2 separate regions of the Homo sapiens genome follow, and region 2 is linked to region 1. Evidence: fine-mapped expression QTL. A gene starts in region 1. The other region holds a variant in brackets. All regions are shown on one strand. Distances are between the middles of the regions. Region 1 holds the start of MPDU1-AS1 (MPDU1 antisense RNA 1). Region 2 holds the start of SENP3 (SUMO specific peptidase 3).

Region 1 (2,894 bases):
TCAGCCTCCTTAAAGTGCTGGGATTATAAGCTCGAGCTACCGCACCGGGCCCCAGACTGTTACTTTCCAAAACAGCTTTTCTCCGATGCCTACCACCCCCCACATCCAATCTTCCATTCCCTATAAATTAACACCCAAACTTGGCTTGACCTCCACGGCTCTCCATTGCTTCCCCATATAAAGCTGAGAAATGCCCAAGAGCTCTCTGATCCTTTATTTCCCTTCTCTGGGCCAATGGGTGCCCCATTTCACATGTCTTCTCTCTCCAAAGACAAGTCTTCATACCATTTTTTTTTTCTTATTTTAATTTTGAGACGGAGTTTCACTCTTGTTGCCCAGGCTGGAGTGCAATGGCACGATCTTGGCTCACTGTAACCTCTGTCTCCCGGGTTTAAGCGATTCTCCTGCCTCAGCCTCCCGAGTAGCTGGGATTACAGGCGCCTGCCACAACGCCCGGCTAATTTTTTGTATTTTTAGTAGAGGCGGGGTTTCGCCCTATTGGCCAGGCTGGTCTCGAACGCCTGACCTCAGGTGATCCACCCGCTTCGGCCTCCCAAAGTGCTGGGATTACAGGCGTGAGCCACCGTGCCCGCCCCATACCACTCTTTCTTGAACACTCTGACTGTCCCTGGCCCCTACTCAGGGACTAAACCTTACCCTTTCAAGGCTTGCTTTTATGCCCTGGCCATCCACAACTTCTCTAGCCTTGAAGCCTTCCCCTCAAGGAACTTGGTCTAGTGGGAGTCTGACTCTCACGGGTCATGAATGCGGCTAAAACAAAGTGCCCCACGAGCTCAAGAGAGGTACCATGAACTGACAGGGGCAGACTGACGCTCCCCAAACGGTCTGACGGTGACCCTTGTGGAGCTGTCTCGCAATCAGAAAAAGGAAGGGAGGCAAATTATTCCGAAATCAGACTATGAGCAAACCTGGAGGCTGGAAAGAAAGCAATCAGGGTGGCGGAGCCTTTGGGGGTGCAATGAAGGCCCGATTCATCAGGGGCTTTGAATTAAGTTTAACCCTGCTAGCGATCTAATAAAGGTTGGCATGATTTGACTTAATTTTTATTTTGTTTTATAAAAGTTGACTCTTCGTTTTTCATTGTCGCTACAGCACAAACTCCACAAAGAAGTAATTCCACCCGGTGACTTCCCCACTGGCACTAATATGGTGTCCTCCCTCTAAGGAGCCCGAGACACTTCCGCCCTTCTCAGAAGTGACTTCCGTCCAGCTCGGCATGGCGGCAGTCACTGCCGTCACTTAGTCGCCGATCAAGGCTTGGACTAAGGGCCCACGGTCACTCGAGTAGGACTTGGATCGGATGCTGAATAAAACTCACCGTGAAGCAAGTCCCACTGAACGAAAAGTTGGTCGTAGCATTTCTCAGGTAAAAGAATCGGCACGAGCAGCCGTTTAAGCGGTCCGTCCGCCTCGGCCGCCATATTGCAAAGCTAGCTTCCGCCAGTCTCTCCAGACCGCCATTGACTTTCGTTGCGCGTGCGCGCTGCGGACACTCCGCCTCCCGTTCTTTTCCCGCGGCGAAGCTGGCCCGCCCCGTGCCCCGCTCTTTCTGACGCTACCCACCCTCACTCTAGTGGCGTAAAATAAGTCTCAGTCAGGGACCACGTTTTGGACGCGCTGTTGGAATTGTAAAGCTTGCCGAAGCTGCACGCCTGCGCGGTTAGACCTCCCACGCCTTTGTTGACGCTTCCAGTTTGGAAGCCAGATTTACACCCCTGCCTTTCTCCGCTCCTCCTGCTGGGCGCCATCTTGTCTTCTCCTAGCACACTTTGTATTGTTCGAAGTTGAGAGAGAAGGAGCCGGAGTCTCCGAGGTGGCGTTGGGTGGGGGCGCTACTAGCTCCCGTTCTCTCAGCGTCTCTAGAGGGAAGGGCGCCGGTGGGAGCAGGAGAGTCTGCACCGGGCAGGCCTCCTTAGGTGCCGGGTTGCGCGCAGGGCCCTGTGCTTGTCTCGCCTCCGGTTGGCTCAGGCCTCGGAGCATGAGTGCGCCGGCAACTGCTGGGCCCGGGACAGTGAAGCAGAGGAGGAGGTGGGGGAGGCGAGCCCAGGTCGGGGAAGGGCAGCACCTGAATCACCCTTGGGGCCCAGACCCCCAAGAGTCTCCGGGGAGCCGAGGCCTGGCGAGGCAGTCCCGGGATTCGCCCCCTCCCCGCTGGCCCGAGGGCGCACCACGTGCTGGGCAGAGACTTCGGCGAGGCCGAGTGGACCCTGCAGCGCTGCTTGGGAAAGGGCACCTTGGACTACCTGGTGGGGGCGTTGTGCTTCGTTACCGACCGCCGGGACGCCAACCCACGGTGCCCACCCGTGCGTCATTCCGCTGTGGATCAGCCCTTTGGCGGCCCCCCTCCAAAGTCTACAAGGTCACACGGATGTCTGCAGGCAGAGGTGGGGCTGCTGGGGCCCTGCCAGGTGAGGGCTGCCCTTGTGGGGCAGTCTCTGGGCCTTGGAGGCCGGAAGCCTCCTGGGGCTCCTACGGCTGGGGGGTGCTGCTCATCCTGGCTCCCAGGGATTGCGCCGTAGCCAGCTGTAATGGGTGGGACTGGCGCTCACTGCTGGTGCAGGCTGTGGCCATCTGGGAGGTCCTTTCTGGAATCTGGACCTTGGCTGTCCTGAGAGTGACACTCCTCATCTCAAGTACTGGGGGCATGAAGTTAGGCTTGGCAGGTGGCCCCGTGTGGGGGGCATGCTGTTCCCAGGAGCCCCCAGTGGAGGTCAGAGTACCCACTGCTCCTTCTTGATTCAACCCCTTGTAGGTGGGATAGGAGCATGCCAGGTGCTGCGAGGGTTTAATCGGGCTCTTCTGCTGGCCTTGAATATGGTGGACAGGACAGGACATTCTCATTGCTCAGGAGCCACTGGCGCTGCCTTTGGGAA
Region 2 (2,894 bases), 23 kb after region 1:
GCCAGGTTCTACGTCTTTATTTTAATACCACCAGGGCTGTCCTTTGAGGGCCCAACAAGGGCAGTTTCTTTCCTCAGGGACATGATAACCGTGGTACTTGAGGAGAATGCAACTTGCACGTGGAAACTGGACTGGAATGGGAGACAGTTCTCTAACACCCTGGATGAACGGGGGGCATGGGAAGGCTGCGGTCATCTCAAGTGCAGATGCCAGGGATATGGTTCAGGGGGCAGAGGCTGATAAACGGGGAAGAACTTTGAAGGAAACTTAAAGAGAACCGAATCAAGACGCTGGGACAGAACGGAGCGCACAAGCCAGGCCGGCCCAGCCCCCTCCTACTTCATCCTCGGGGACCAGAATGCAACCCGGCACCAGTCCGGTCCCACGAGCTTGGATGGCTCGGCGCACACGGGCCTTAAGAAGCCCCTATGCGGGCCTCTGGGCCCCGGTTCGGTGGGAGCGAGGCCCAGGAATGGGAGAGGCCAAGGCAGGGCTGGGGGGAGGGGAGGGGGCGTCCTCACCGGGAGCGGGGAAGCCGGGCGGACGGGCCCGAAGGCGGGCGTCTCCGGCCTCAAGCTTCCCGGCTCATCTCTCCGGCGACGGCGGCGGCCCCGCCACTCCTGCTGTCTTTAGGCGCAGCCGTCTCAATTCAGGATTCCAACGCTTCTGGGCCGCGTGCCGCGCCGCCGAGCACCCCGCCGCGCCGCCTCTGGCTCTGCTTCAGCTTCAGCTTCCACCTCCACCTCCACCTCCGCCACCGCCGCCACCAGCGCCACCGCCGCCGCCGCCACTCCTCCCCCCCTCCTCCTTCCCCTCCCGCGAGCCCCGGGCCCACCGGCAGCGGTGGCGCACGATTAGTACGTCACACCCGGCGAAGAGCGCCGGCGCGGCCACCAAGCGCGCGGTCCCGTCTACCCGAGGACGCCGGCGCCACGGGACTGGCCAGCCCAGAGCGCTACGCGAGGCTGCGCCTGCGCACATCCGCCGCCCGGCCGCGCGTGGCGGCCCCGCCACTTTCCCTTTTGCGCCGCGCTCTGTCTTCTCCGCGCTCGCGGGCCTGACCCTAGCGGCATCCCCAGTACCTTGATCCGGCGGGGGGCGCGCCACAGGAGAGCCAGGAGGGCGGGAGATCCCCGTACGAGGACCGGGCTGAGGCGAGGCAGTGGGGGAAATGGAGCCGGGGTATCATTCATTCTATTTTATTTAACTTTAAGCAGGGCTTGATCAGAAAGAAGAGCTCAGAGGAGTGAGGCAACACCAACACCAGGGCGTACGATACACCCGAGGCTCCTCCGACACCAGTTCCAGCCCGGAAGGGCTTGGAATGGCCTGCCACGCCGGGGCAATGGAGCGCGTGAAAGCCAAACCTTGGGACCCGAAGAGTAATTTGACTGCGAAGGCACCGTCATCGTCGGGCACCCCCTGTAGACGGGCGCATAATAGCTACATCTCTGGAGATAGTGATGGAAACTGGGGTCCGATAGATGGAGAGAAGGACGTAGGATAAGGCTTCTTGTGGGGTGAAGAGGCAGAGGGCACCTGGAGAGAGGTGTGGCATGGAGAACCAGGGGTTTTCCCTAGCAGAGGGCGGCTTCGTGGACTTCGGCCAACCGGCGGGTGCTTCCCTCGAGCGGCCGCTAGATGGTGGTGCTGTTCTGGATGCTTCCAGTGGGCCCCGACCAGGTCTG[G/A]ACAATGCCTGGCGCCCGTCCCCCGCCCCTCATCTACACACACGCAAGAATTCGGAGCTCCATGGGGAACAGAAGCAAGATATCCGTAAAATCAAAGTCTAGGGGGTGGGAATGAAAAGGGAAAAGTGAGGAACGGGGAGCCAAACCCAGGAAGACGCCTCTGTTCCTGCACATTCCCTCTCCTTTATATACTCAGCTCTTGGCTGTCTCCAGTATGTACCCACCCTGGTCTTCCAAGCTGGGAGCCACTTTTTATAACACAATCACAGTTTCACAAACCCCAGGAAGGTTCCATGTGGAGAGAGGTTAAGTTTCGCCCTTGCCCGGGGAATTATGACACTCAGAATATCCCCTTGGTGTAAATGGAAGACACCTGAGAAAAGAGAGAAAGTAGATTCGCAGTGAAGCACAGCCATCCAGATGCCCTGTTTCCCCCTGCCTTCTCCAGCTCCACCGTTCCTCTGCCTCCTGTAAGGACCCGGCATTCTGCACTTCACTCCTCAGACCCGCCTCTGTTTAGGTTTCCAACCTCCCTCCTAGCGGTAGCTCCCTGCACTGCTACCCCCGGTCAGAGACGTCCTGCTTTCGGCTGCCCACACGGCTCTCACCTGCGCTATAGCAGCTGTTGTAGGCCCGGTCCGGGTGGGAGGGCATACTTCTTATACATCGGAATAGAGTCTCCTGCCTTCCTTGGCCTTCTCGAGACACCACCTGACCCATGGTGAAAGTCACGTCTTGAAACAGGACCTGGCAGGGAAGGGAGATGTTGAAGAAAACAGGATGGCCTGGCTCAGTTCTGGGAGGCCTCAGGAGCGCTAACGAGGGAAGAAAGAAGGGTCTGCTGGGTTTGGTATGAATAGAGGGGTCAGGAACCCTCAGTAGGGGGCCAAAGAGGCCCTCTGTGAAGCTCAGAGTGTGGCTGGGGTTACCTGGCTATACAGCAGATAAACTCCAGCATCCTGGATTCGGACACCATATCCTTGGGCCTGTAGGCCTCTCCCACGCCTAAGAGCTGGTTGCCACATCACCTCTGTCACATCGGAGTCATCTGGAGGTGAGAGTGTGTCGGTCAGGACTTCTTGGCACTCTCAGGTGCTTTTTGGTTCTTTCCCTTTCACCTATAAGGACCCCTTGAGCCCAAGTGCCAGCCCGAGTTCCTGGTTATTGCCCCTCCCCAAAGCCATTATTTAAAATAGTGCTCACCCT

The links.
Region 2: its variant is fine-mapped to the expression of MPDU1-AS1 in whole blood (INTERVAL, PIP above 0.99).

What each region holds. Positions count from the first base shown.
Region 1 is chr17:7,582,411-7,585,304 of GRCh38, reverse strand. MPDU1-AS1 (MPDU1 antisense RNA 1) reads left to right here and starts at 1,213. Exons shown (of 2, transcript NR_136402.2): 1 at 1,213-1,387. MPDU1 (mannose-P-dolichol utilization defect 1) reads right to left here and starts at 1,453. Exons shown (of 7, transcript NM_004870.4): 1 at 1,340-1,453. The coding sequence starts at 1,442. RefSeq lists enhancers at 8-880, 1,115-1,644, 881-1,755, 1,755-1,804, 1,756-2,629.
Region 2 is chr17:7,559,891-7,562,784 of GRCh38, reverse strand. It overlaps TNFSF12-TNFSF13 (TNFSF12-TNFSF13 readthrough), which reads right to left. Exons shown (of 11, transcript NM_172089.4): 8 at 2,892-2,894; 9 at 2,618-2,736; 10 at 2,297-2,435; 11 at 1,184-2,061. The coding sequence ends at 1,952. TNFSF13 (TNF superfamily member 13) reads right to left here. Exons shown (of 6, transcript NM_003808.4): 3 at 2,892-2,894; 4 at 2,618-2,736; 5 at 2,297-2,435; 6 at 1,184-2,061. The coding sequence ends at 1,952. It overlaps SENP3 (SUMO specific peptidase 3), which reads right to left and starts at 866. Exons shown (of 11, transcript NM_015670.6): 1 at 522-866. It overlaps SENP3-EIF4A1 (SENP3-EIF4A1 readthrough (NMD candidate)), which reads right to left and starts at 793. Exons shown (of 22, transcript NR_037926.1): 1 at 522-793. RefSeq lists enhancers at 1-96, 1,363-1,612 and a silencer at 723-802. The variant G/A (reference allele first, on the strand shown) is at 1,689.